7 separate regions of the Homo sapiens genome follow, and all the other regions are reported to be linked to region 6. The links are microRNA targets in miRTarBase. Many come from high-throughput screens and were not tested one by one. Region 6 holds a microRNA gene; each other region holds the end of a gene's coding sequence.
The links. Region 6 holds the annotated microRNA hsa-miR-21-5p (UAGCUUAUCAGACUGAUGUUGA, at 1,952-1,973, opposite strand). A microRNA usually pairs through its seed, bases 2 to 8, with sites in the 3' UTR of a target mRNA and lowers its output. Matches are read on the target gene's strand: a 7mer-m8 pairs with bases 2 to 8, a 7mer-A1 pairs with bases 2 to 7 and ends in A, and an 8mer does both.

Region 1: the mRNA of ATF7IP is a reported target of hsa-miR-21-5p. Seed matches in the 3' UTR shown: 8mer at 260-267.
Region 2: miRTarBase lists FIGN as a target of hsa-miR-21-5p. Seed matches in the 3' UTR shown: 7mer-A1 at 991-997.
Region 3: miRTarBase lists WDR7 as a target of hsa-miR-21-5p. The part of its 3' UTR that is shown has no 7-base or 8-base seed match.
Region 4: miRTarBase lists ASRGL1 as a target of hsa-miR-21-5p. The part of its 3' UTR that is shown has no 7-base or 8-base seed match.
Region 5: miRTarBase lists SOCS4 as a target of hsa-miR-21-5p. The part of its 3' UTR that is shown has no 7-base or 8-base seed match.
Region 7: miRTarBase lists RPRD2 as a target of hsa-miR-21-5p. Seed matches in the 3' UTR shown: 7mer-A1 at 2,881-2,887.

What each region holds. Positions count from the first base shown.
Region 1 is chr12:14,497,495-14,501,494 of GRCh38, reverse strand. ATF7IP (activating transcription factor 7 interacting protein) reads right to left here. Exons shown (of 15, transcript NM_018179.5): 15 at 1-3,841. The coding sequence ends at 3,422. Among named protein-coding and RNA genes, the nearest start is that of PLBD1-AS2, 31 kb to the left of the region's middle.
Region 2 is chr2:163,605,929-163,610,007 of GRCh38, reverse strand. FIGN (fidgetin, microtubule severing factor) reads left to right here. Exons shown (of 3, transcript NM_018086.4): 3 at 1-4,079. The coding sequence ends at 456. Among named protein-coding and RNA genes, the nearest start is that of FIGN, 130 kb to the left of the region's middle.
Region 3 is chr18:57,026,551-57,030,631 of GRCh38, forward strand. It overlaps WDR7 (WD repeat domain 7), which reads left to right. Exons shown (of 28, transcript NM_015285.3): 28 at 454-3,242. The coding sequence ends at 657. Among named protein-coding and RNA genes, the nearest start is that of WDR7-OT1, 11 kb to the right of the region's middle.
Region 4 is chr11:62,391,914-62,395,994 of GRCh38, forward strand. ASRGL1 (asparaginase and isoaspartyl peptidase 1) reads left to right here. Exons shown (of 7, transcript NM_001083926.2): 7 at 166-1,499. The coding sequence ends at 371. Among named protein-coding and RNA genes, the nearest start is that of SCGB1A1, 25 kb to the right of the region's middle. RefSeq lists enhancers at 2,958-3,027, 3,138-3,187.
Region 5 is chr14:55,043,864-55,047,934 of GRCh38, forward strand. SOCS4 (suppressor of cytokine signaling 4) reads left to right here. Exons shown (of 3, transcript NM_199421.2): 3 at 1-4,071. The coding sequence ends at 501. Among named protein-coding and RNA genes, the nearest start is that of MAPK1IP1L, 5.7 kb to the right of the region's middle.
Region 6 is chr17:59,839,165-59,843,245 of GRCh38, reverse strand. It overlaps MIR21 (microRNA 21), which reads right to left and starts at 1,980; the gene lies at 1,909-1,980. VMP1 (vacuole membrane protein 1) reads right to left here. Exons shown (of 12, transcript NM_030938.5): 12 at 991-3,478. The coding sequence ends at 3,335. RefSeq lists a silencer at 725-919 and enhancers at 2,205-2,934, 3,658-4,081.
Region 7 is chr1:150,472,495-150,476,575 of GRCh38, forward strand. RPRD2 (regulation of nuclear pre-mRNA domain containing 2) reads left to right here. Exons shown (of 11, transcript NM_015203.5): 11 at 1-4,072. The coding sequence ends at 840. Among named protein-coding and RNA genes, the nearest start is that of TARS2, 13 kb to the right of the region's middle. RefSeq lists an enhancer at 1-502.

The sequences.
Region 1 (4,000 bases), not on the chromosome of region 6:
TCGTATGTGATTTATAAATTTCTTGGCAAGAACAAGATTTTTAGAAGAGGCTTACTCACACTTAAGACAGAGTGAAAATTACTCTCACAGAATGCAAAGTATAGAATAATAAACATCACCATTACCTTTAAATGCCATACAAACATCCTACATTGCAGGTTGCAGTATCAGGTTTCCAGAATTTCCAATAAGGCAATACCTACACAAATATTGCCAGGCTAAAAATGTAGCAAACTTGCATTCCCAAACTGGGAGAATCTAGCTTATTTGTAATACTTTGTGAAAAGATACTATGAAACTAAAAAGGTAACCGTGGAGTGGAAACTGCTACTAGAAAGTCTGTTATCAGTAGCTACTTCTACTTAAGTCCTCCATTCTCTCCCAGAAGAAACAAACCAAACAAAAAGCATCTATCAATATTAAAACCTGCCTCAATAAAAGCCTAGTGTTCTAACTTAGCACCTCTAGTAAATCTAATATAGCTGCTGCCCCTACGTGCCATGGTAGGCTAATTTGAGGACACCATCTTATAATAAATATACTTCTCCCCTAAATAATTGCGATTTCTCCCTGTACCTTCCTTCCAACTGGAATAAAACATTTTAAGTAGTTATTTTACTTTAGTAAATATTTTTAGAATTCCTATTTGAGAATTTGTTTTCCTTTGACAGAAAACATAATATAGGCTAGGCTAATGAATTTTTTTTTTATTCTACTGGGCTTTCTTCATCTGATTATATAATGCTATGAAAGCTTTTTTTAAAAAAGATTAGTAAATATAAATAAAAATGTTCATCAAGAGAACCTTTTGTAGGTTAGGTAAGAAAATTGTTACCACGTGACCATAAAAACACCCAATAAAGAACAATTTGAACATGGGCCTTCAGTTTTGTAGACAGGAATAATCTTGAACACATATCAACATTGCAACCACTGCAGGTCAAAACATATACATGCAGATATAGACAGGTGTTCATATACATCTAGAAGATCATCAACTCCTCCTTTCTGAAATTTTCATTGCCATAACACTGGCAACTTCTTTACCATCATCATTAGTCCTAGAATGAGTAATATCTACATAATTGGTTGGCAAATTTGATTTATAGCATACTCCTTTGTGGTCTCATTTTCTGAGAGTGAAAGGTGGTTTGGAGAATTAATTTTTTGGCAATCTATAGGCTTTCTTCATCATGAATCAAATCTCACACCTCAGTATACTGACCAGTCAAAAGTCTCTAAAGAGTTTTCTTTACAACTAGAATACTTCCTATTATAAGCCATCAAAGTTGCAAACAAAACAACATTAGTAAAAGAGCTCCCTCCTGTAATTCTAGGAAAAATGAATCACTATTTTGAGAAGGTACAAATATGAATTCAAATATTGTAAAGGAAGAGGACTTCGAAGTTATTTCACAAACTCCATAAATTCCTTTCAAAATATTCTCAACCACATTCTCCTCCTAAAACTTAACTCAGCCCTCCAGTCCTAAATTATCTACACCCAAAACACCTACCTGACACCAGTACAGCTGGCCCTCATATTAAAAATCCATGACCTAAGCTGAATTTTAATAACTTTGAAGAGGAACAGAGAGATACACAGGAGGTTATATCTAATTGTTACATAAAATGACCTCAAAGGATATACTTTAAATTCTTTTTTTTTTGAGGCAGAGTTTCGCTCTTGTCTCCCAGGATGGAGTGCAATGGCGCAATCTCAGCTCACTGCAACCTCCGCCTCCCGGGTTCAAGCGATTCTCCAGCCTTGCCTCCTGAGTAGCTGGGATTACAGGCATGCACCAACATGCCCAGCTAATTCTGGGATATACTTTAAATTCTATCCAAAGCTAACAATGGGTACATCAGACTCAACTTGGCACCATCAAAACAAAGTTAAAAGGTTAAAATGGGAAGGACGATAAAGAGAATAAAGAGGAAATGAAGCTTTCCCCTTGATATTTTAGCTCATTCTATATTGTAATCTTACTATTTGCTTCCTTTGAAAGAATACTAAGGAGTTAGTGTTGGGTGATAGCTTTGGGTGATAAACTGAACTAGAATGGTTTTCATAATCTCTAACACAGTGTGCAACACGGATACTAAAATGTGTGAAAAACTGTCTTCCACAATATGGTTTTCTCTTGGTCCACTTTACACAAAGTTAAATAGTGACCAAAAATAAAAGCATCTATAGTTTTAGAAGAAAATAGCACGTCAAATTTTTGGAGTTAAATGTGATTGTCGCCACCATGCCCGGCTAAGATGAGACTATGCATGCACCTGTGTGTGTGTGTACATACACATCCATGTACATACACACACCTTGGTTTAAAAATCACTTGAGTAGGCTGGATACAGTGGCTCACAACTGTAATCGCAGCACTCTGGGAGGCCGAGGCGGGTGGATCACCTGAGGTCAGGAGTTCAAGACCAGCCTGGCCAACATGGTGAAACCCCATCTCTACTAAAAATACAAAAATTAGCCGGGCATGGTGACAGGTGCCTGTAATCCCAGCTACTCTGGGGCTGAGACAGAAGAATTGCTTGAACCCAGGAGGCAGAGGTTGCAGTGAGCCAAGATTGTGCCACCGCACTCTAGCCTGGGCAACAAGAGCAAAACTCCATCTTAAAAAAAAAAAATTACTTGAGGAGTTGTGCTATATTTGGTAGAGATGAAGGAGAAATCAAGGGTAAAAGGCTGCAAGGGAAGACTAAGCAACAACGGACATATGGCCATATTTATTTATTTATTTTTGGCCATGTTTATCTTTGTAGTTAATCTTTAAGGCACAAAATAAATGTAAAAGCCAGATTAGGAAAGGGAGGGGGCCATTGCAGATCTTTTTTCACCTAATTAACAACTCAGGAGACCAGACAAAAGAAACAACAAATAGATCCTTTCCTGTGTTCGAATTAACCTATTTTAAACTATTTAGCCATTTTGTTTTTTATTTATTTCTTTGGGTTTTGTTTTGATTCTGTTTGACCCACTTAACTAAAATGATACTATAGATCCTTCAAAAGCAGAATCATGCCAGTTACACATCTCAAATCCTTTGATCTACTTACTTCGTACTTTAAGAGGTAAATTTGAGAATGAAAATGGGAGACTCCAATGCAATAACACCTACATAAGGAAAAACACACATAAACACCCACACATATTCCCCAGCCTCAAAACTAAAGCAAGGTACACATTTACATTTCCAAACCCCAAAGCCTAAACTGTCCAGGAAAAGATTCTAGCTTTGTGGGCTGAGTTTATTTTGCTTCTGGTTATAAACAAATGTAGTGTATACACACATCTGTCCAAGAAATCTTGCACAAGGTGGATTTTACATGGGGTATCATGCACAAGATTAAAAACAAGACCAAAAGGTGGAAATTTTAAAAGAGGAAAATATAAAGGCTCCAAGGTTTAACTGCTCTGGGTAGAAGAGATCACATCTGTTGACTGAGGATCACAGAAAGGCCCAAAACGTCCATAAATATCCTTGGCTCGTACTGCAAAGTAGTATTTGCTACCAGATACAAACTGGGTGAGAGTACATGCCATGGGCAAGGGAAGTGCCTTGACTTCCCCAATCTTTTTCCATTGTGAGGGCACAGTGGCACTGGGTTCCTCATGGTAAGCATAGAGATGGTAGCTATCAACAGTGGCACAGCTTCGATCCACCTCCAGGACACTCCATGACAGTACTATGCCATTTTGACTCTGAACGCGTGCTAACTTCAAGTGTGGCTTCTGAGGCAGAGATGTGCTGGCAGCTTCTGGGGGCAGACGCTGTGGTTGTGGAGCTTCTGGTAAGGGTGCTGGGTGCACGGGGCGTGGGGGCTCCTGAAGAAACAGGTCACACTGATTAATGATGATTGCAAAAAGAACTATTTTAGAATGTTAGAATTAAAACACCTTAGAGAACATACGTAGAAGTATCATTTTATATCAAGAATTCTAGGAAATACCAAATACCATATCAAATTTGGCAAGTTCTATTTG
Region 2 (4,079 bases), not on the chromosome of region 6:
TTTCTGATGCAACTGGACACTGTACTAACTTCGGCTGAGGACCAAATCGTAGTAATTTGTGCCACCAGTAAACCAGAAGAAATAGATGAATCCCTTCGGAGGTACTTCATGAAACGACTTTTAATCCCACTTCCTGACAGCACAGCGAGGCACCAGATAATAGTACAACTGCTCTCACAGCACAATTACTGTCTCAATGACAAGGAGTTTGCACTGCTCGTCCAGCGCACAGAAGGCTTTTCTGGACTAGATGTGGCTCATTTGTGTCAGGAAGCAGTGGTGGGCCCCCTCCATGCCATGCCAGCCACAGACCTTTCAGCCATTATGCCCAGCCAGTTGAGGCCCGTTACATATCAAGACTTTGAAAATGCTTTCTGCAAGATTCAGCCTAGCATATCTCAAAAGGAGCTTGATATGTATGTTGAATGGAACAAAATGTTTGGTTGCAGTCAGTGATAACTTCTTTAGAAAAAAAAAATGTAATGAATGTTGGCACACACACATAAAACCTGCTACATAGGGAATAGAGCCCCTTTCCAGTAGAGTTTAAATTGCAAAGGGTACTGGGGAAGATGACGATTAAGTTGCATCTTTAGAGTCAGGGTAGATTTGGAGGAAAAGTGCATCAAATGAGAGCTTCTGATTTGAAAGCCCCAGATGACAGAAAGCATATGTGGATGCTCAGTTCTGTTCAAGCTAGACAACACTCACCAAGGAGCAAGGTGCAAGTGTGTTGATTTCAGAAGGACATGAACCTCGTGTGTTGATTCCATTCTGCTGTTCTCGAGATTTAGTTGCTGTCAAGTGCCTGGAGTGGTGCTTTATTTTTTGTTTGCCTCACAATTACATTGGTGGCATGTGCTAATATAAAGAGCTTTAACTTCAAACATTATTGGACTAAAGAGATGAACAGTTGTGTTATGACAGAAAACCAGATTTTTGCCATTTTAAGAGCAACAGTATTCCTCAATCCTGTCTGTTCTGCAGTATTAAGCTAAGAACAGGTAAAACAGGGTAACGGTAATCTGGACCTTAATTTCTGCAGTTCATTTCTTTTAATGTTCTTGTCTGCAAAAACTCAGGAAAGTGATTGTGATTTGTACAGTACCTCAAAGGAATGTGTTGAAAGCACTATGTACTGCTGAGAGTAATAGGATAGGCTTCAATGTTACTTTATATTAAAATGTATGTTTACCTCAACAATTGGAAAATAGCAAGGAAAATTACTTTGAATGTATCCAGAAAAATACTGAAGTGTGATACAACTGAATATTTACAGTTTAAAGTAGAAATGGAAGGATTTTTTTAAGTTCTTTTACTAATTATGGGGAATTAACCAGAGCAGAATAATTCTTTATGTCAATAACTGCAAGAGTTCTTAGTACATTGCTCCTTGATAATTAAGTGAAAATGTTCTTAAAAGGTACACTGGTTAATTGAAAGCTACTTATTCAGTTTGTGTTAGTGTCTAGACCTGTCAGCCACAAGACCTGTTTAGGACCCTGAAAGTCACAGTACCTAAAAACTATGACTGCCTTTTTATTGCATAGGTGGTAGTGGTGGTGATGGTGGTGGTAGTTTGCAAGTTATCTCTTAAAACTGCTGGGAATGGTGTCATTCTATTCACTAATCTAGCTTATAGACTTGCCGTGCTGTTTGATAGAATGCAGAGGATAGCAACCAAAACAAATACACAAATAAATAAAAACAAAAACCAACCAACAAACCAACTTACATACACATATATATATCCACAAAGAACCTCTCCATCTCCTCCCCTTCTTTTTGACTCCACTCTTGTCAGTGCAATTTTGCTTCTCATTTTGAAATCTGGGCTGTAGTGCTCCTGCTTTATTTCTACCTCAGTTTTGTTACATTTCTCTTGGAAAGTAAAGTAGAAAATTGGAAGTGGACACACACACTGCAATGTAGCTTGCCAAACATGTTACTTTGTTTTCTTCCATCTTTCACCGTAAATCTAGTTTCCAAAGACATCAGCATTTGTGCTTACTTCCACCTCAGTCTACCAGCCCCACCCCTACCCATGGCATAAGTGGCATTTTTCTTAATTTCCTATTTTTCTCCTGCTCTCTGTCAAGTTGTTCTTTGTATCCTTTAATGCTTTATGTGCAACCTTTCATTGATAGTGGGCTGATGTTTGGCAATGCTTCTGAACTGTCACAGAGCAGGCTGTAGCTTTCCACAGCCACTGCCCATGCATAAGCAGAACAGCCTGGCCTTTTGAATGTATTTTCCTGGGTTTTTTCCCCTTTTCTTTTTTTAGTTTAGAGATGCAGTAACAAAACTGTTGCAAAGCACTGGCATTTTATGTATTCAATAAATAAGTGATGTACATTTTTAAAAAAATTTAAATAAATGCAATGAGAAGCCCCAAGAAAGGCCTTTCTGTTTTTTTTTTCTTACAAAAATTTTTACCGATCTTATCCACAATATCCAATTCTCTGAAACACTTAACATAGAGAAAGCTCATGAGGGATTTCTTATCTCTGAAATTTTATGATGCTTGATCTTTACTCCCCTTTTTTTATTTTTTATGTTGCTAAAAACTGAGCAATTGAACCAGAATTTAATTTACTGTGACATTCTGTCAATTAAAGCTGTGCTTAAATATAAATATTCCATATTAAAAAGCAGTGCCTTTCATTAAGGATACAAAAAATAATACTTAAATACGCCCTCTGCTTTTCGCAAGTGAATAAATGCTACAATCGTGTTCTGGGTCTACCCTGTGCATCCCTTGTAAGGAAATTCTAATATCCACATTAACTTGTAGGTTCATATTGATCTCACTGACAAGTTTACTTTTGCACAGTGCTGACCTATTTTCTGACTTTTAGACATTATATTTCATTTCCGCCAACATGCTGTGTTCACTTGAAAGCGTCTGGCAAGTTTTGACAAACCCAGTCTTATTTAGACAACTTTGGAAAATCCAATATTGACCCACATTTTTTTGTGGCTAGTAAGATTTAATGCCAAATATATGACTGCACTATTGTGTTTTACACTCATTTATAAAACTGAAAATAAATTGAAGTCATACATCTTGGCTTTTAGCTTTAAGTGACTTAAAAATTAGAACTCTGAGTGACTTAAAAATTAATTTGAGATGCAAGTGGTCAAAAATCCATGTATTTAGACAGAAGCTGAAGTCGTATGTGATTTTCATTTAGCCTCACAAAATCCAAGATTTGATCTCTTAGGAAATTGGGCATGTTGAAGAAATGAAGATCTGTTGGAGGAGATATGGCTGACCTTTGAGTAGATAGTGCTCTCCTGTGATTCTTTGATTCTGCATGGCAGCATTATGAGCTCTTCTATAAACTAGCTTAATAATGAGCTCTATTCTGACCATCTATTCTGGAACTTGGAGTGGGGGTGGGGTACCACATCCTCAGAAGTGAATGTGTACAGTCGGTGATAGTACAACTGAGTAATGGGGCTTCATACCCTTGGCCTCTTTTTGACTGCTAAGAATTTGGAGAAGGCTATTAATGAAGGTAAGGTAATGAGCCAGTCCAAATCCCTCACTGTCTGGCTAAGAGATTGAGCCATTCCACTTTACAGCCCCTAATTCCCTTCTTCCCAACTGCAGCAACATTTCCAACAGGGACAAAAAGGAAGTGAAGGAAACCACTTCAGTATTGGGATCAATAGAAATTCAAGAGGTAGTTCATAATGACCTTATATGTGACACAAATGGAAATACTCTACACTTCTGGCATGCTTCTCTCCCAAATATTTAGAACATTAGTGACAATATGAAAAACTTTGCTGACTGAGCTGATCAATGGAATGTGAAGGCAGTATACTTTAAGGCTATTTACTTTCACACAGAATGTTTATCTATTAGTCAGTTTGTATTCTACTCAAATGCAGATAGACGGGTATAATGTTTTCTTGTGCATTTGAAACCTATCAAGGAGAAAATAAACCATTCCACTAAAATACATAGGCCAAACACCATCTGGGAAAGTGATAAAAGCTATCCAGAGGCTATGCTATGTAAAATAGCAAGGTCAATTTACATGGGTTGCATAGTACTTGGCTATGCAGTT
Region 3 (4,081 bases), not on the chromosome of region 6:
CTGCTTAACTTTGCTTCCTTTTCTTGAACTAATTACAAATCCCAAAACTTGTCTTCGCTGACTCATCCTTCAGGGAGTGAGTGCAGTTAGCATTGTGGTAAAGAACATGAAAGTCTTCAGTTTTAAATATCCACAATTTCCAAATATCTGTGTTGTCTAAATGAACCATTTTATTAAGAGGTATAATTTAGCCCTCTTCCTAAAGATCCATGGACTCTCCTTTTGTCAGGTTCTACCCCTATAAAATTCCTCTAGATTTCTGCATTTACCATAACAGCATCGGAACAATTCCAAGCACACTGAAAGGAACTTTTGAGAGGTTAAGAACAAGCTTAGGTGAAGGAGAATAACCATGATGGAGGGGAAAGTAGCCAGGAGAGATCGACCCAGTCTCTGTGATAGGGAAAGGGAGAGGGCTGTTCAAGTGACACATGTGCTCTCCTGTCCCTCCAGATGAACACGTCACTGCTGGGAAGCATCGGCATGCTGAACTCGGCACCTCAGCTGCGCTGCATTAAAACCTACCAGGTGCCCCCTGTGCAGCCCGCGTCCCCCGGCTCCCACAATGCCCTCAAGCTGGCCCGGCTCATCTGGACTTCCAACCGCAACGTCATCCTCATGGCCCATGACGGGAAGGAGCACCGCTTCATGGTCTAATGCTGCTGCCTGCCGCCGTGACTGCGTTTTAGTTCTCTAAATTATCCAAGCCGATGTTGCTCTGTCCTTCCTCACACCAGATTGTTCCCAGGGGCCTGCCCACCCCAGTGCCATCCAGTGGCACGGCCGGGTCTTGTCACTTGTGCATGCTTCTCAGGGGCAGAACCCGCTCGTGCCATCTGTCGATTCAGAGGCACGCACACATGCTCTGCAGGATGTGGCCATCCTGTCACCAGGTAGTTTTTCCCTGCCAGAGATGGCAGGGGAAAGCCAGTGGTTCCTGGGAACGCTCTTGTTGCTTGGTGCAACAGAAGCACAAAAATCAATAAACACTGTGATTGCACTCCCAGCCCAGATCAGCATTTTTAGCCATCTCAACCGCACCTCTGAAGTGCTGCTTGAATCTGGCCGTTCTGACACTGGGTGTTGAGGTCATGTGGCAGTCCTCACGATTGAAATTATTGCCCTTTGAATTACCTAAAATATTGTTTACCAAAAAGATTCTGTGTTTACATGTTCTTTTCTTCTGGTGATTGCTAGGAAATTACTCAATCCAATTTCCTAGGGTTTAGCTACCACCTTCTTTATCAACAGCTAACCAATTTGAGATTCATGATTAATTATGTACACAAAAATATTTTCCTTGTAGAAAATAGTTTTCCAGACACTTAGCCTTCTGAAGTGCTCATCTCTTGCTTAAATGATAGTCTATTTAGTAGTTTAAAATAAAAATAATCACTCCCTATGATCTAGTTAATGTAATTATCCAGTCACTGTAACTAATCTCTTGAAGGGACTTTTGTGATAAAGAGCCAAGTTCAGAAGCATAGCGTGTACCGAAAATGAAGACTCTCCTATCTACTGCTACAGATCCTGTTGAAGAAAGAGCTTACCCCTTTCCCCCGGAAAACTTGCAATCCTGTAGTTCCCATATGTGTGGCATATGTCAGTTATGAAATTATTATAATTCAGCCTTCAAACTACTACTGATCAACTAAAGGAAAGCTAATAAGGTATTTCTTTTAAACAAGTATTCTGGAAAAGTAATAACTATGGCACAAATGTTCAGGAGTGTATATAAAAATATGTGGGCTCTCGATTTATTTGAGCAAACATTGCAATGAGGGTGTTCATTATGCTTCTAAGTAAGCTTTAACTAGACCACTTTCTTCTTATGTCAGATTGTGCTGGTTCTAGCTCATAATAATGAAAAAAATAGAATTATATTTTGTATGAATTGTTTCTAACAAACCTTGATCTGTATATACTTGTGAGGGGTTGTTTGGTTGCCTAATTGTTGATTGGTTGGTTAGTTGGGCAAAATCATTTATTACATGCAAAAATAGAAAATTATTTGTTAAATTCAGAGAAAATATGTGAAGTTTACAAAGGAACCAAAATGATAATGGGAGAATTTAGTCTTAAAAGTTTAGGTTGTCAGAGTTTATCTGATATACAAAAAAGTAGGATCAAAGTCTAGGAACAAACATTGGTTATTTCACTGAAACAGATTTTTAAAGAGCATATTAAGAAATTAAGACCATTAGATCATCTCTTTCATAATGATATGATGTTATTTCCATTGACGGCAAATCTATACTGTTCCTTGGTTTTAGAGTTGGGTATTCTTTCAAAAGTGAATTTAGGCACATGCATGTACATTGTATTTATAAAGATTATATATGTAGTTTCCAAGGAAGAAACAAAGACCTATACAGTTTAGACTTTATTTGTTTGGTGAACGTGCTGTTGTGTTTGGCATAGCTAGAGAAATGTAAGGTAAAAGGCTCACTTTGTTTTCCAGTGGGTCCAGAGTCTTCTCTATACCCAACATATGTTTACTTTATGAACTTAAATGGAAATTAATTTATTGTAGACTACATCTCTATTTGGAATGATGAGGTAAATGTATACCTTAGCATTTTCTTTAACAAAAATGTTCTGTGTGTCAGGAAAGAGGTGTGAGAGTGGTAGGCAGCCTGCCGCAAACACACGGATGGCTCCCCCCGCCACGAAGGTTGAGAACAAAGCCAGGGGGCCCAGAGGAGCAATAGCCCTGGGCCACAAGCGTGGGTAGGCCTTTCACGTATTCCGTCTGCACAGGCAACCAAGGCCAGTAGAAAGCTATGGCTGCAAAACCCTGGGGTGGACGATGTTTGATGATTAGACGGTCATCTCTAACTACTAAACTAATATCTGCATTCTTGTTAACATAAATCTCTCCTTGGCTATTTTAATAGCCACAGTCCCAAACTTCATCCCAGCTTAGATTTCTCAGCACTGAGGTAAACTCTGCATTGTCATCCCAGCGTACACCTTTAATGTTTTATTGATTTCACTGGCACTGTATTTGGACCTGTCCTTGTATATGTAGAGACATATGTGGCTTCATTGGTAATTTACAAGCAAAAGATGACATGACGTGACACCTGTATGAAAATGTGATGATTGAACTCCCTGTGTACAGCGAGTGAATTAAAATGTCTGCCTCTCCAGACATTTCTTAATGATTCCACTTAATAGACTCTATGTGTGCTGAATGTTCCTGTGTACATATGTGTGTTAAATAAAACAATTGTATTGAAGACTGTTTTTCTCACAATATTACCTTTTCCAGTGTTCACTCATCTTAAACATCCTCAGTTGAAATCCGTATGCTCCGCTAGCCCTGCTGCTTCTAATCATTCATTTCCCTGGAGAGCTGGCTTGGGAAAGGCAACTTATTCCCAGAGGACAGTAGAGCAGAAGTGCAGAGGTAAGCTCTCCCTCCAGAAACTCACTGGCACTCTCTGTGGTTTGGGAAAGGCGTTGCATGCCTGTTGCTTTATCTCTACTCTACATGCTCCCAAATAGACTGGTAATGGCACCAAATCATATCTTGTCAGATTGGATGGCATGGGTTGGCTGCCTCTCGGGAGCTAGGCTGAGATCATCAAGTTCATTGCATTTCACGCTCAGTTTGGAGTCGAATTTGAATCCCTCAGGTAAAGGGTATAATTGGTTTTCAGAAAAATCAAGAATAATAAAATAGGTCCTTACTGCTCATAGAGGGTTATGTGTAAGTAGTGAATGTACTTCTTGTCTCTTAATTATTTCAGATAAGAACACAAAAGCTTGATTTGAGTCAATCATCGTGTAACAGTATAATTTTCTGTAAGAATTCGGTGAACATTCCAGGAGTGGTCTGAGGCATCTTGGGCCCTATTAAATGCCCACTGTGGGCCCCAGGAAATGTTTTAACATCTCATGACTTAAATGTATTCTTATAGGGAAAATAGGGGCAGTAACAGTTCTATATGATCAGCGATCACATAAACTGATCAAATGTGGAAAGGCGTGACGTTAATAGGAAGGTAAAGCCAAGCAGTGCTGGGTGAACTTTCACCTTTCACCCCTTCGGCTGACTGACAGAGCCCAGTGTTGA
Region 4 (4,081 bases), not on the chromosome of region 6:
GCGCTGTCTCAGGGCAAGGAGGTGAGGACCCTCCTTTTAAGCATTCAGGCGTTCATTTACCAAAAATCCTTGCTAGCTCACTTTGGCATTTCAAATGGCAAGTGATTTTCCCATGAGATTCCTTTCAGTAATGTGTGTTGTTTCTCAACCCTTCCTTGTTTTCAGGAAAGACGGTAGAAGAGGCTGCGGACCTATCGTTGGGTTATATGAAGTCAAGGGTTAAAGGTTTAGGTGGCCTCATCGTGGTTAGCAAAACAGGAGACTGGGTGGCAAAGTGGACCTCCACCTCCATGCCCTGGGCAGCCGCCAAGGACGGCAAGCTGCACTTCGGAATTGATCCTGACGATACTACTATCACCGACCTTCCCTAAGCCGCTGGAAGATTGTATTCCAGATGCTAGCTTAGAGGTCAAGTACAGTCTCCTCATGAGACATAGCCTAATCAATTAGATCTAGAATTGGAAAAATTGTCCCGTCTGTCACTTGTTTTGTTGCCTTAATAAGCATCTGAATGTTTGGTTGTGGGGCGGGTTCTGAAGCGATGAGAGAAATGCCCGTATTAGGAGGATTACTTGAGCCCAGGAGGTCAAAGCTGAGGTGAGCCATGATTACTCCACTGCACTCCAGCCTGGGCAACAGAGCCAGGCCCTGTATCAAAAAAAAAAAAAAAAAGAAAAGGGAAAAAAGAAAGAAAGCAGCAGCATGATCCTGACATGACAGATGTGGGAGACCCACAGCCTGCAGACACTGTGGGCTGGAAGGTGGGAAGGGAGGGGCCGGTGGAGGTGGAGCTGTTTGAAAGTGACACAGCAGCAGTAGAAGCAGTGGTGGGCGAAGCCCAGGTGACCCTCAGAACGTTGCACAAGAACATCAGGGAAAAGAACCAGAATCCTTTAAGGAAAATGTTCTTCATGTATGAGAGACTAAAGTGATTTTTCTAAGAAAGTTCAGCCCTTCTCTGACTTACCTGGACATTTCTAGATACTTCCAAAGGACCCTCTGGGAATCCATAGCTTCCTAATCTGGAGATGGGAGGTCATAAGGGAGACGCTGTGGGGTTCCTTGAAGTTTCTTGGGTTCACAGAGGAGCCCCCTCACTTGGTGTTCTCCCGTGAGCCAGCCTCCACCTGCCAAAGACACTCTGGTCCTCGTATAGTGAGTAATGGGGCTCAGGGCCTCTCCAACAACAGAGAGGAGCTGATGCTGTAGGGCTGACCCCGTGACTTCCTGAGTCCTCACCCTGTCCAGTGCTTTGAGATTCTTCCCACCTCCCCATCCTCACCAGCCGGATCGGGCGCTGTGCAGTGTGGTCAGCATGGTGAAGAAAGTCATTTCCTCGGTGGGCAGTATTCCTCTTTATCTCTCATTACACTGGAAATGTTATTTCTGCTGTATCATCCGTGCTCAACGTTTTAGTCTGTCAGGCTCACCTTCTCTCTGGAAAGAATTTGCTTAACTTGACATTCCATGTGCCGCTAATAAAATATATTTTGAAAGAATAAGGGTGTGGTTGGGAGTCACTGTTGACAAAGACCAGAATGTACACGAGCTCCCCCCTTGGTCTCAGGTGTACTACAGAGACCTCGAGATGAGGATGGTGTGGAGGGTGATATGTGCCACCTTGTGGAGTACTCGTGAGTTTTTCAGAAGAACTGAACTTTTTCTGAGTGGGTCAAGGAAGAAGCCAAACCATGATAGGGTTTATGGCGCAGTCTTCCTGCAGTTTGCCAGCATTCACCCCAGACAGAGGTGCACAGTAAAAACCTCAACATGCAACAACTCCCCCTTTAGAAACAAGTATTTTATTAGGAGGTGTATTAGTTGAAGATTGCCACAACACGATTCCACAGACTAAGTGACTTAACCAACAGAAATTTATTAATATTTTCTCAGCTCTGGAGGCTAAAAGTCCAAGATCAAGGTGTCGGCCACGTTGGTGTCTCCCGAGGCCTCTCTCCATGGCTTGTGTAATAGCTGGCCATCTTCTCACTGTGTCCTCACATGGTCTTTCCTCTGTACGTGCACAGCCCTGCCATCTGTCTCTATATGTCCTAATCCCCTCTTCTTATGAGGACACCATATTAGATATAATTTATATATTATAATATATAAATTATATAATATATAAGTTACAATATATCTAATATGGTATATTTATTATATATTATAATTTATACAATATATAATATATATTATAATTTACATATATATTATATATAATAAAATATATAACATTTATATAATACATATATATTATATATCATATAAATATATATACTATTATATATAATATATGATATATAATATTATATATTTTATGTATTATATATAATTTGTTATATATTATATACTATATATTATATATCATATATTGTATATATTATATATTATATAAAAATATATGATATATAATTTATAATTTATAATATATATTATATATAATATGTAAATTATAATATTAGATTAAGGTCCACCCTAATGACCTCATTTAACCTTAATCACCTCTTCAAAGGCCCTGTCTCCAAATACACTCACATGCTGAGGTACTGGGGGTTAGGGCTTCAGCATGTGAATTTGGGAGAGGACAGAATTCAGTCCATAACAGGAGGCAAAACAGAATCATGTTGGGGTTTGGAAAGGGGAGACCCTTTGGAGAAGACAACAATCGCTAAGGAGATAGAAAAAAGGAAGGAGGGAGCTGGGGGATAGGGAGGCCAGTTGGAAGATCTGGTTTTGAGCTTGTCTTACCAATTCTCCAGTTCACAAGGAAATTTACTCTAGTTATTAAAGATTACCGTAGGCTCAGCTTGTGGCCACTTGACCTCTTTAGCTGGGCAGCCCAGGTGCTAGGGTACGTATGGGGTCGTCAGCCCCTTTGTGCAAAGCCAAAGTGTGTATTTTTGCCCTCAGACCTGAGTTGTACCAAAAGCCACCTCCACCAGCCTGGGAGTTCTGTAAATGGAGACCACGTACAGTTCTTGCTTTTGCCCCACAGCTTGTCCATGGCTCACTGTCAAACAGAGAAATGAGCCTGACAGCATCTGAAAGGGGAAGACAATCTTTTTATCACTTCTGTGCCACAAGAGGGCAGCAAACTATAAACTATCCATGGCTTCAGCCGCCCAAAGGGAAGGTACTCTATCTGGATCAGAGCAGTCTATTTAGAAAATTTGGAACCAAAAGAACATTCCTCTTCCTGACCTTCATTTTCGTCCAAATACTACAATTTATTTTAGAGCAGAATTGTCCAAAACACAAACGCTAGCAAATGGCCCGAAGAACCCACCCAGATCAACAGTGGAAGCTCGCTCTGCCCTGGGCGCTGCCAGATGCCGGATGCCAGATCCCACGGTGAACAAGCTCTGGCAGCCCGGCCCCGCCCCCACTTGCTCCTTCCAGCCAGGAAGACAGATACATCGTCATGTGGCTCACCCACCAAAATGGTGGGATAATAAGGAGCACAAGACGGGCCCTGAGCCAAGGCCAAGTGTCCCCAAGCAGGAGTTGCTGCAGTCAGGACTCAGCCCCACTGCTGGGCTGCAGAGAAGAGTCCTGGGTAAGGAAGGGCCTTGATCTCGTAGCTGTTGCATAATACACATTTTTCTCAAATAATATTCCTAGACTTCTTCCTCTCTAGCTTGAGGGATTGTAAACTCTGAGACCAAAGGAAGGAGTGGGGCACACGTTAGTCCCCTTCAGTGTCCTGTTGTCAGAGGTGATGGTGTGTGGGGAAGGCTGGGAAGGGACACTCGTTCTTCCCGCCCCCCACCTGCTCCTCTGAAGTCCTCCCATCAGCCTTCATCTTTGCACAAAACCATCACTGCATTTGGATTTTGTAGCTGTTTCTTTTTTTTTTTTTTTTTTTTTTTTTTTTTTGAGATAGAGTCTTGCTCTGTCACCCAGGCTGGAGTGCAGTGGCACGATCTCAGCTCACTGCAACCTCCACCTCCCAGATTCAAGCAATTCTCCTGCCTCAGCCTCCCGAGTAGCTGGGATTACAGGCGCCCGCCACCATGCCTGCCTAATTTTTTTGTACTTTTAGTAGAGACAGGGTTTCATCATGTTGGACAGGCTGGTCTCG
Region 5 (4,071 bases), not on the chromosome of region 6:
GTACCAGACCTCCTTCAGATCAATAACAACCCATGTTACTGGGGAGTGATGGATAAATACGCAGCCGAAGCACTACTGGAAGGAAAACCAGAGGGTACCTTTTTACTTCGAGACTCAGCACAGGAAGACTATTTATTCTCTGTTAGTTTTAGACGCTATAGTCGTTCTCTTCATGCTAGAATTGAACAGTGGAATCACAACTTTAGCTTTGATGCACATGACCCCTGTGTCTTCCATTCTCCTGACATTACTGGGCTCCTAGAACATTATAAGGACCCAAGCGCCTGTATGTTCTTTGAACCACTTCTATCCACTCCCTTAATTCGGACTTTCCCTTTTTCCCTGCAGCATATATGCAGAACAGTTATTTGTAACTGTACAACTTATGATGGCATCGATGCCCTTCCAATTCCTTCTTCTATGAAATTATATCTGAAGGAATATCATTATAAATCAAAAGTTAGAGTACTCAGGATTGATGCACCAGAACAGCAATGCTAGTAACAGGATGGGAACATGGGAATGATAATATATATTTTTTCTTTTAATATTTTATTTTTCTTTTTATGCCACTTTGGATTTTTCTACAAAGGCAGTGGTGTCCAAAATAAAATCTCTGCCCTAAATTTTACTAATAAATCCATTTTTCTAGTGATACACAAATTGTTTAAGGTTATACACTCGAGCTTAAATAGATATTTTTAACCAGGTGTTTGGTTTTTGTTTTTACCGTGTAGGTTGTATACTTACATTTTTTCTTTCCTTAATTTATACATGATCCTTTTTCCTTAATTTATACATGATCCAGGCACATTTGAAATTTGGTAGGCATTGCAAACACATTTGAATATTGTGTATTTCATACTATTCTTTAAAAGTAATCTTATGTCCTTTCCTACATGTAAAATATTTTGTTAATCTATGCCATTAGTAGTATTATATATAAAATATAGTTCCCCGTCCCCCTTTTCATTGAGTTTGATATTCTTCAGTAAAGCTGAATGTTGTAATTCACCATTCATACTAATGTTATTGACTTTTGTAACTTACTAATAGGGATGTTAAAAGTAACAAAACCAAGTCAAACTTGGTGTATTTTTATTTTAAATATTAACTCTAAAGCAGGATTACTAAATTTGATTAATCTGGTCAATGAGAATCAAATGGAAACATATCATTCTGGAGGTGCACTTACTCTTCTACAATGTGGCCGGATCATTTGTCATTCCTGAATAGGTCTTTCTCTCAACCTGCAAGAGCTAAACCATCTTCAAAACATAAATCTTGTTCCTTTCTCATTGGAAGCTTTGAAAATAATGATAACACTATTAGTAGCTAGTAGTTACTAAAGTGCTAAAGTAATTGTGGGGTTTTTCTGTATTAGCTTATGAACTGTTGCTTCTACTTAGCCCTTTTATAGAAACTCTGAGCTGTTACTTTGGGGAAATTCCACAATGTATTAGCAGCCACAAATTTCCACTGGTAACCAAAGAGTACCTAAGTAGTTTTTCATTATTTTAAGTTGAATTTGAATAAAGATTCCAGAAATAAACATGGAGCTCAGTATTCAGGAAGCTTAATACTGTTTTTGATCTACAAGATCCAAATAATTATCCCTATCTTCAGAATTAACTTAGTCTGTAATGTGGCTTCAAAAAAAGAAAGCCTTTTGACAGCTACATGACTTACACCATACAGAACAGTACTGGACAAAAGGGGTGATATTTTAAATTTACTATCCCAGAAACAGGGCAACGTTTTTAGAAACATCTTTAGCCCAAAGTAACTAGTAAAAATAAATGGAGTGGTATCCTATCTTCTTTTTTTAAGGAATCAATGAATAATAAATGTAGATAGACAATTTTCTTCTGGTGAGCTGTCTAACCCTTTGTACACATTGACATTTTTAATATCGTAACTGATTTCTTGATGCTAGTTTAGCTATATTAGGAAACTGCTTCTACCTAGATTGAAAGAAATTTGACTCATAAACTTCCAAGTTAGAACAAATATTTCTTCATTATTGTTGCTTTTATGTGAGTAGCATTTCCCTATCTTGCAGTTCTGTTAACATGAAAATGGCATTTTTCCATAATAGCTTTAAAATAATTTTTTAGTAATTATTACAAAATTAAGGAAAATCTCTATTACCGTTATCTTTTAGCATTTTTTTTTTCCTCAGTGATCTCAAGATTGTCTTAGTCTCAATGAGATGTAGCTACAAAAATGGCACCTCTTAGCAGTGATGAGGCTCAGGATATCGGATATCATAACACCAATGTCAGGATAAATATCTCTTCTAAAGACGATATTTACCTTTTACAAGGTTAGAAAAGTCTCATACTACCTCATCTTTATTGTGGCGCTTTTGTAGATCACTGAGAAGCTTATCTTATTAACCAATATACCACTTCCTAAATATCCATCTTTGGTGAAAGAAAATAGTGTGGTAAGAGTACCCATGATTATAGTTTTTTATCAGAATTTGATAAGATTTTCTGTTTCTGTGAAACAATTATTTTAAATATTTTTCTTTTAAAAATAACTTTTTATCAGTACAGAAAAACCTAAGGGATGACTAGCTTACAAATATTCTGTTAAGGGGTAGTTTTATAAAGAAAAATGATATATAGTTATGTTGTCTTTTATAGTGTTAAAATTAGTATTTATATGAAAGTCAAGATCTAAGTACCTTTTCATATAATTCAAACTGATTGCTTGTGATATGTTTTCTCTGGCTTTTTTATTTTTTCAACTTCAAGGTATTAACAGCTGTTAACACTTAAAAAGTACTGCCACATATGTAGCCTTGAAGTAGTTGATCTAATAAATGAGAGCAGGGAGGAGATTCATTGACTCTGAAATGATTTTTATTTTTCCTTTGGTATTTGCTACAGTGAAAAGAAGTTTGGAAAGTAGATACATAAAGACTTGAGAAGGGAATTGTTTAAGGGAAAAGAAAAGAGTAATAATTTTTTTTAAAACATTAAGGAATTGGAATTCAGAAAGGTTACCCCCTTCCTCTGTGTCTTTGTAAGGATACATTTGGAAGAACATACAGTATTCAGAAACTAACCTATATAAAATGTAAACAATATATTGATTGCACTATATAAATGAGTAAATTTTGAGAGGAACAATGTGGGAATGTATAAATTTGTCTAAAATTTTATAACTGTTGAACAAAGGGAAGATTTGAACAGTGTAAATTCCAGAGTTGAGAAAGCATTTAGCATGGTGGAAATGTGGAGAGCTTATTGGTGAGAGAGGATGGAGCTAAGAGAAATAAGATCAAATATTAAAATTAGGAATTTAGGCATTACCTCAGGGAAAAGCCTTGACAGTGAAAAGAAACTACTTAATCGCTAATAGCTAGTCTGGACCAGACACTTAACTGCGCTTTGGGAATCATCCTGGGCTAATCAGGAAATAAACTTGACTTTTCTATTTTTCTCTGAAGCTTTACAGGACATACTCCCACTCCCATTTTTTTCTAAGCCTACAGCATCTTGATTCATAGTATAATTCCTGAAGTATGCTGAATGGACTTTTTAAGGTTCCTTTAGCATTTTTGTATAGAGTTATATGTGATCTTTCTATAACCATGCCATTCACTTAAATAATTCATGAAGGGAATGGTTTAATTTAAAGGAAGACCTAATAGGAAGAAGATTAAAGGAAGCTTTTAGTCAGCCTGTGGCTAGATTTATTGATTTGGTGATCAAACCTGTGCTATTTCCTGAATTTCAGCTAATGGCCAACTGTGGTCAAAGAATGGCTTTCAGTTAAAGTTTTGACTTCTTATTATAAATAATATAAAGAATGTCTCAGTAATTAGAAATCCCTTAATAAGTAGAACAAATGTGGCAAGTAGGACTCCTATCGGTATACAAATTCCATTTCTTTTTATAAGAAAAACACATAAACCATTATCATTTATTCATGAGCCAAAGCCATTAAGAAGATAAATCCAGTTATCAGCTTCCTGTCTCTGAAGTTTGGATCATTTTATAGATCCACGCAATAGAGAGCTTCCTTCCTATGAAACAAAAACCTTGAGATCTCTTTTTT
Region 6 (4,081 bases):
GCACACTGGGGGCAGAGGCTGAGCGTGTTTGTGTAGGAGCACTCAATACTGCATATGTTTCAATAATTAACTAGTGTATTTAAGAAACTTCATTCTACGTGGGCATGGTGGCTCACGTCTGTGAACCCAGAACTTTGGGAGACCGAGGCAGGTGGATCACCTCAGGTCAGGAGTTCGAGACCAGCCTGACCAACATGGCCAAACCCCGTCTCTACTAAAAATACAAAAACTAGCCTGGTGTGGTGGTGGGCGCCTGGAATCCCAACTACTCCAGAGGCTGAGGCAGGACAATCGCTTGAACCTGGGAGGCGGAAGTGGCAGTGAGCCGAGATTGTACCATTGCACTCTAGCCTGGGCGACGGAGCAAGACTCTGTCTCAAAAAAAAAAAAAAAAAAAAAAAAAGTAACTTCATTCTAGCATTCGTAGGGAATGGAGAGGTGGCCACTATCCAAATGAAACTAAAAACCTTTTTCTTCCCAGACTCATACTCCAGATTATGCACACAGAGAATACAGAAAACTATGGGAAAACTGGACATTGCACATTTTCATATGACATCATCTGTTATTTTTTTTGTCTTGCTCTGTCACCCAGGCTGGAGTGCAGTGGCGCCATCTCGGCTCACTGCAAACTCTGCTTCCTGCGTTCAAGGGATTCTCCTGCCTCAGCCTCCTGAATAGCTGGGATTACAGGCGTGCACCACCACGCCCGGCTAATTTTTTATATTTTTAGTAGAGATGGGGTTTCGCCATGTTGGCCAGGCTGGTCTCAAACTCCTGACCTCAGGTGATCTGCCCGCCTTGGCCTCCCAAAGTGCTGGGATTACAGGTGTGAGCCACCGCGCCCGGCCGACATTGTCTGTTTTAAGGGAGGTATTCCTCAGCTCTTCGGTGATAAACTGCTGATGTATTGCACTGCCTGACAGTCACCAAGTTGGAACATGATAAATACTGCAGATGTGTAAGGCACAAAATGAGACTTATACAAAGTAGAGATGGAATCGCAAGAATTCCCAGGCCCTCTTTTTATTTACAGTGATACCAAACCATCCACTTGCAAATTCTTTGGTCTCCCATCAGCTGGAATTAAGTAGGTACTGTGTATCTTTGAGATCATGTATTTGTCTCCACTTTGGTGGATACAAGAAAGGAAGGCACGAACAGCTGAAAAAGAAGGGTATCACACCGCTCCAGCTGGAATCCAGCAGGAACCTCTGAGCATGCCACAGCTGAACACTTAAAAGAGGAAAGAAGGACAGCTGCTCTTCATTTATTTTGAAAGCAAATTCATTTGAAAGTGCATAAATGGTCATCATAAGTCAAACGTATCAATTAGACCTTCAACCTAGGAAACAAAATTTTTTTTTTCTATTTAATAATACACCACACTGAAATTATTTGCCAATGAATCCCAAAGATTTGGTACAAATAGTACAATTCGTATTTGCTTTCCTCTTTCCTTTCTTCAGACAAACACCAAATAAAATGCAGGTGAAAGAGATGAACCACGACTAGAGGCTGACTTAGAAATTTATGCTGACTCGATCTAAAAAAAATTATGTTGGTTAATGTTAATCTATCTAAAATAGAGCATTTTGGGAATGCTTTTCAAAGAAGGTCAAGTAACAGTCATACAGCTAGAAAAGTCCCTGAAAAAAAGAATTGTTAAGAAGTATAATAACCTTTTCAAAACCCACAATGCAGCTTAGTTTTCCTTTATTTATTTGTGGTCATGAAGACTATCCCCATTTCTCCATAAAATCCTCCCTCCATACTGCTGCATTATGGCACAAAAGACTCTAAGTGCCACCAGACAGAAGGACCAGAGTTTCTGATTATAAACAATGATGCTGGGTAATGTTTAAATGAGAACATTGGATATGGATGGTCAGATGAAAGATACCAAAATGTCAGACAGCCCATCGACTGGTGTTGCCATGAGATTCAACAGTCAACATCAGTCTGATAAGCTACCCGACAAGGTGGTACAGCCATGGAGATGTCACGATGGTAGGCAAAACAAGCAGACAGTCAGGCAGGATTTGATAAAAAAACAAAAACAAAAACAAACCAAAAAAACCCAGGCATTTCTGGCCTGTTAAGATCGAACCCCAATTCTATTCTATTCTGACATAATGCTCATAATGCTCCTAAAGGAAAAAAGTAAAATTGTTTATTTTCCTCCCAAGCAAAACAAAATGAACAAGTTCAATCAAAAACATCCCAATGGAAAAAAATCACACTAAGAATAAAACACTTACAGAACGGCAAGAAAACTGGGTTAACATATAAATTTGTGTCTGTTGAAACCAGAGTACATGCTAGAAAACATTAACACAGATACGACAGAGTGTGGTTTTTTTTTAGAAATGGGTAATTTCTCTCTCCAGTATCCTTTCACTTGTATGAGATATTTCTCCTCTCCTGTTTTCACAAACCAAGAAATCCCCAGGTAGGCCAATCCCAGAGGTGCCATTTAGCAGTATGCAGCAGCCCAGTTTCAGCATAACAAAACATGCCTTGGTAGTGGCTCTCTCATGCAAATAAAAGAAAGCTTAAGAAATTCTTGTTGTAGGTGGATTAGGCAAGGCTGCCATTCAGCTGGTATAAGCTAAAAGTAAAAAATCAAAACGCTCAAGAAAACGGACACAATTTTGGAATGATTAAAGATGTCTTTATAAAGTTTTTTTCAAGACTTCATTCTAAATACACAGAATAAAAAATGGTGTCAGCTCACTTGTAAGACACCAACCAGATTTTCCTTATACTGTCTCAAAATTTAAAGATCAATTTCCCCAGAGGGTGTGCAATGCATCATAAAATGGCCCTTTTTTGAGGATGGGAGAGGAAGGGTTGGGCAGGATGGAATATTAAATTGTAACATGATAAACATGCAAGACTGTTATCCAATCTAGATAATTTATATACATTTTGATGACTTAGGAAAACAAAGCAATCATTTGTGACAAGCCTAAAAAGCTTGACATATTTAACATACTTAGGAACTTTTTTTGTGCGGTGGGAATTCTCTAATTGTATCATGTGGGCCTTTTGAAAGTAACAAACAGAAGGCCAGTCTGTTGCAAGTTTGCTGCTGAACATCACATTCCACCCTAAGAAAACACAAGGTGGATTGCATCGAGGGTGGATACCTTACCTTAGCACAGAAGGAAAAAGTATGTCAGTGCAAAGTATGGACTAAACTGCTTTCAGGAAAAAAGTTGTAAAAATTGATACAGGTTGGAAAAGGGAATTTTCCTTCCCGGCTTGGAGTCCTCCCAATTTAAGGCAGAACCCATCCACTCCAATTTCTGCAGTTTAAAACTTTCTCTACTTATTTAGTTTTCTCCTCTGAGTTCAACCGCTGCTGGATTCGTTTGGCATAACTTTGTGCCATGGAGTTAATGATAGATAGGATGAAGTAACACACCATGACAACGACCAACTTTTCAAACATCCAGGACAACCAGTTTTCTCCCTGTAGAAATAAATGCAGAACAATGCAATGAAAAAGGCTTCATTAGTTCAGTAGTAAAAAGAGGATCATCTATAATGCTTGAAGTGTGTAACTTACAAAACCTAAAGAATTAAAAATGAAAAGTAAGCAACCCCAACTACTCTGAAATCTCCATTACTCTCCTTTTTACACCCAACTATCAAGATTTCACTTTGTTGGATGTAAAATCAGTGTTGAATCACATAGTTTAGAATGGGATGAGTGTGAGGTTAGCTCTTCTACTAGGACCTAAGAATAAACTCTTTGATTAAACTCAACTCTGAAGTCGCCATGCAGATACTCATGAGTATTGTCAAGACAGTTAAATATTTTTGTTCCAGTATTAGGAGCTGTTTTTAAAACACACAAATGTATCTGTTTCTGATGTCATGTTTGGTCAACTGAGGGCAGCAAAGGTCCATAAGAAGAGTGCAAGGCCATTAAAAAAAACAGTGCTCTGGCCGGGCGCGGTGGCTCACATCTGTAATCCCAGCACTTTGGGAGGCCAAGGCGGGCGGATCATCTGAGGTCAGTTTGAGACCAGCCTGGCTAACACGGTGAAACCCTGTTTCTATTAAAATACAA
Region 7 (4,081 bases), not on the chromosome of region 6:
TCCAACAGTTTCAACTCAACATTTGAGCATCATCTTCCCCCATCCCCCTTGGAACATGGGACACCCTTCCAGAGAGAGCCAGTGGGGCCATCATCTGCCCCACCTGTCCCTCCTAAGGATCATGGTGGTATCTTCTCTCGAGATGCACCCACTCATCTACCCTCTGTGGATCTTTCGAACCCCTTCACAAAGGAGGCAGCCCTGGCCCATGCTGCCCCACCCCCTCCTCCTGGAGAGCACAGTGGAATTCCTTTCCCTACCCCACCTCCTCCTCCCCCTCCTGGGGAACATAGCAGCAGTGGTGGGAGTGGTGTCCCCTTTTCTACTCCACCCCCTCCTCCACCCCCTGTTGACCACTCTGGAGTTGTACCCTTCCCAGCCCCACCACTGGCAGAGCACGGAGTGGCAGGGGCTGTGGCAGTATTTCCCAAGGACCATAGTTCCCTCCTTCAAGGGACCCTGGCTGAGCATTTTGGGGTACTCCCAGGACCCAGGGACCACGGGGGCCCCACCCAACGGGACCTCAACGGCCCTGGCCTTAGCCGTGTACGAGAGAGCCTCACCCTACCCTCCCATTCTCTGGAACACCTGGGCCCACCCCATGGAGGAGGAGGTGGGGGAGGCAGCAACAGCAGCAGTGGCCCCCCCTTGGGTCCCTCACACAGAGACACCATCAGCCGGAGTGGTATAATCTTACGGAGTCCCCGGCCAGACTTTCGGCCTAGGGAACCTTTTCTCAGCAGAGACCCATTTCACAGTTTAAAGAGACCCAGGCCACCTTTTGCTAGGGGCCCTCCGTTCTTTGCACCAAAACGCCCATTCTTCCCTCCCAGGTACTGATGGAAACCAAGGGAAAGGCATTTTGAACAGTCTAGAGAACATTGGAAGTAGGAGTTTGGTTTATTGTTGTTGTTTTTATTTGTTTTCTCTTTCTCGATTTTTTTTTTATTATAACAAAGGGCCTCTCTTCCAAAGTAAGAAATCACATACGCTTACGTTTTACTATTCAATTCAATCCTCCCTCCCATTGCACTTATCTACCTTCCCCAAGTTGTTTGTATTAAAAAAAAAAAAAAAAAAAAAAAGTAAAGAAACACAACCAAAGCCATTTCATTTGGCTGGGGGGTTGGGGAGTGGGGAGGAAAACAATCTTTATTTTACCCCATCTATTGAAGAGTATTATTACATTTGAAATAAAACTTCCATCAGTACAGATAACCACATGTGCAATGTTGGGATGTTATTTTGGGCTTGGCTTATCGAGTAGTCAATGGAAGGATTCCCGTCCCCTCTCTCGGCAGCTTAGTAACTGCTGTAGCCAGCTCGGCTCCCTTCCCTGTGTATCTGTGTCCTGCTAACAGCCAAGAGATGTTGCAAGGGAGGAAATGTGAGAGACCTTGAACCTGTCAGGTTTATTTGTTTTGTTTTTAAAGGCATGTTGAAGTTTAGTTCTTTACCCTTCTCCTAAAATCTTTTTTTAATCAGCCTCAAGGTTAAAATAAGGAGTGACTACAGTATGTAAAATAAGGAAAGGAAGCATTAATGGTGTGATGTGACCTGCCTGTTTTTTTGTAAACAAGAGAATAGGAAATGTTTTCAAGGTAGTTTCACATGTCTTGCACCAAGCTCATGCCTCTTGCTTTTCCTTTTTGACTTTATCTCCCTCAGTTTTTCTTCTGCTGTGGCCAGAAAGACAGTCACTACAGTTGACTATTGATACAAAGGTGCAACAGAAATATTATCCCTGCATTTTTAAATATAAGAAGTAGACATTAATTTTACCATGGTGCCTCCCTAATGTAAGTGATATTTATTGGTGGTTTTCAACAAAGGTTAACTATTAAAGAAAGAAATATTTGTCTTTATCTTCCTTTTCCCCTTGCCTCAGTCGTGTTATTCACCCCTATTCTTGATATTTTAAAGGAGGAGATTCAGTAGCATTTTCCTTTATATTATACACATGTGTCTATCCCATTTCAAGGCTCAAGTCTTACCCCCACCTCTCGCTCCCAATAGGAAATAAAGACCATTTCTGCCCTTAGTTGTTTTACATGCAAGATAAGTGCTTTCCTTCTCCCTGGACTGAAAGACTTGTTTGTATTTCTACATCTAGTACTTGGGAAATAGACAATCACTGTACTTTGAGTGTTTATATCTTTATATCTAGGGACACTGAAAAGTAAATGTTGCTTTACTACAATTTTTTTTTAATTTAGTGTCTTACCCCAAGGCATACTCAACTGATAATCTCCAGCTAGATGAGTAAAACAGTATGTGTTTAGTTTTCCAGAGAATTCTGGCAAGTTTCATATTTTCTTCCAAGTTAGTATAGAACTAACTATAGGAAGTATGGGGTTGCTTTTTCCTCCAGTAGAATATTAAAGATGGGGGAGGGTGGGCAATGTAGTGACAGAAAATGATTCTCTCAGAATGAACTTTTCAGAGAAAGAGCAGCATAAACCAGGTGCACATCATGATTTGGGAGTTTTTGCGTAATTTATTCTGTTATTTATTTGGGCTCGCCATGTGTTCTGGGGTTAGGATGCTGCAGGTCATTCATCTTCTTAATGCCTGTCTGGTCTTAAGCCAACTGTTCTTTCTTTCCTCGACCCTCTCTGCCCTGTAGCTCTCCCCACAAAAATGCATGATACCATGACCTTACGTGTGGGATGGGGTATGTAGTGTAGCAAAGAAAAGAAAGTATAGTTATATTGAGTCCTAAGACATTTGTTAGGGAAAAGCATAAGAGAAAATGGGGTGGGAGGTGGGGAAATGATATTTGACTTTCAAAATTGAAATAGGTTTTTTTTTTGCAGAAATTAAATGGGATGTTTTTCATTCTAGAATAAAAGAATGTGAATTCTCTTTGCTGCTCTTGTTTAAGCTAAAAGTAGTGTTTACTTGATAAGGCTCTCTGACCATTTAATTTTTATCAGAAAATGTGGGGATGTCAGGAAAGTGGCTTCCTGAACGTTGGGGCGGGATAATTGTCCTCAAAAGTATGATGGTTAATACATGAAAGGAAGACTTTGTTGGACAGTTTCGAAGGTGGGCTTTTAAGGAGTTGGGTTTTTGTGGGGTACTTTTTTGTTTTTTAAGCCACAAAATCCTCAATATGTTTGTTTTAGGATGGAAGTGAGGATTTGTATGAGACTGTCAGCTATTAATTTTAAGGAAATCTTAAAATTTACATTTACATCAGTAAATGAAGATGACAGTGTGTATATATGTGATAAATAGTGAAACAGAAAAGACAGTTCTGGTATTCATAACGTGAAAGAAAGGGGTTTTATTCTTTCTGTGTCTGTGATTTAAAACTCCGTGACCATGCTCTGACTTTTGTATTTCAACCTGAGTTTAAACAAATAAACAAGATATTTTTTAAAGAAAGCATAACATAGTGTGTCTTAGCAAGGACATGATTCATATGGAAGCAGAATGTGAGAAGTTGTAAGGTCCTTGGTACTCACTGTAAAATCACAGACAGAGAATTGGTAGGGGTTGTGAATACACTAGTACCACTTAAAGTTCAGTGATACAGTTCAGAAATAGGGTCCTTAAGTATTTTGAAAGAGTTTACTCTTCAGTCAGCTTAGATGAGAGCTCTCTCCCTGCTCCCCTCTACCCTCTCAAAAGTTGAGAGTAAATAGAATTTGGTTTGATTCCAGGGAGGGGAAAATAAGCAGAGAATAGGACTTTTATACTTTCCAATACCAGGAATAAAATGTTTGTGATATATATGGGTCCAGCAAACCTATCGAGATAATGTGAATACGATAAACTTCCTAATGGCAGGATATTCACTCTCAATCCTGAAGTTACCGGTTCCTGCAGAATTGAGCTTCAGCTGTTACTGTTTTGAAGCCGCTGTAAATTACTGCTTTCCCCAGTTCCCCCACTATTTTTTTTAAGTGGGCGGGGGCGCCTGTTAAGATCTAAAATAGATATGTTGGATTGATATTCTCACGTGTTCGGTGTGGAAAACAAAACAAGTACATGCTTTAGAAGCAACAACAATGAAATCCTTTTGAAATGTGTGTTAATATCGTTTAATAAAATAACTAGTTTGAAAGGTTTGACA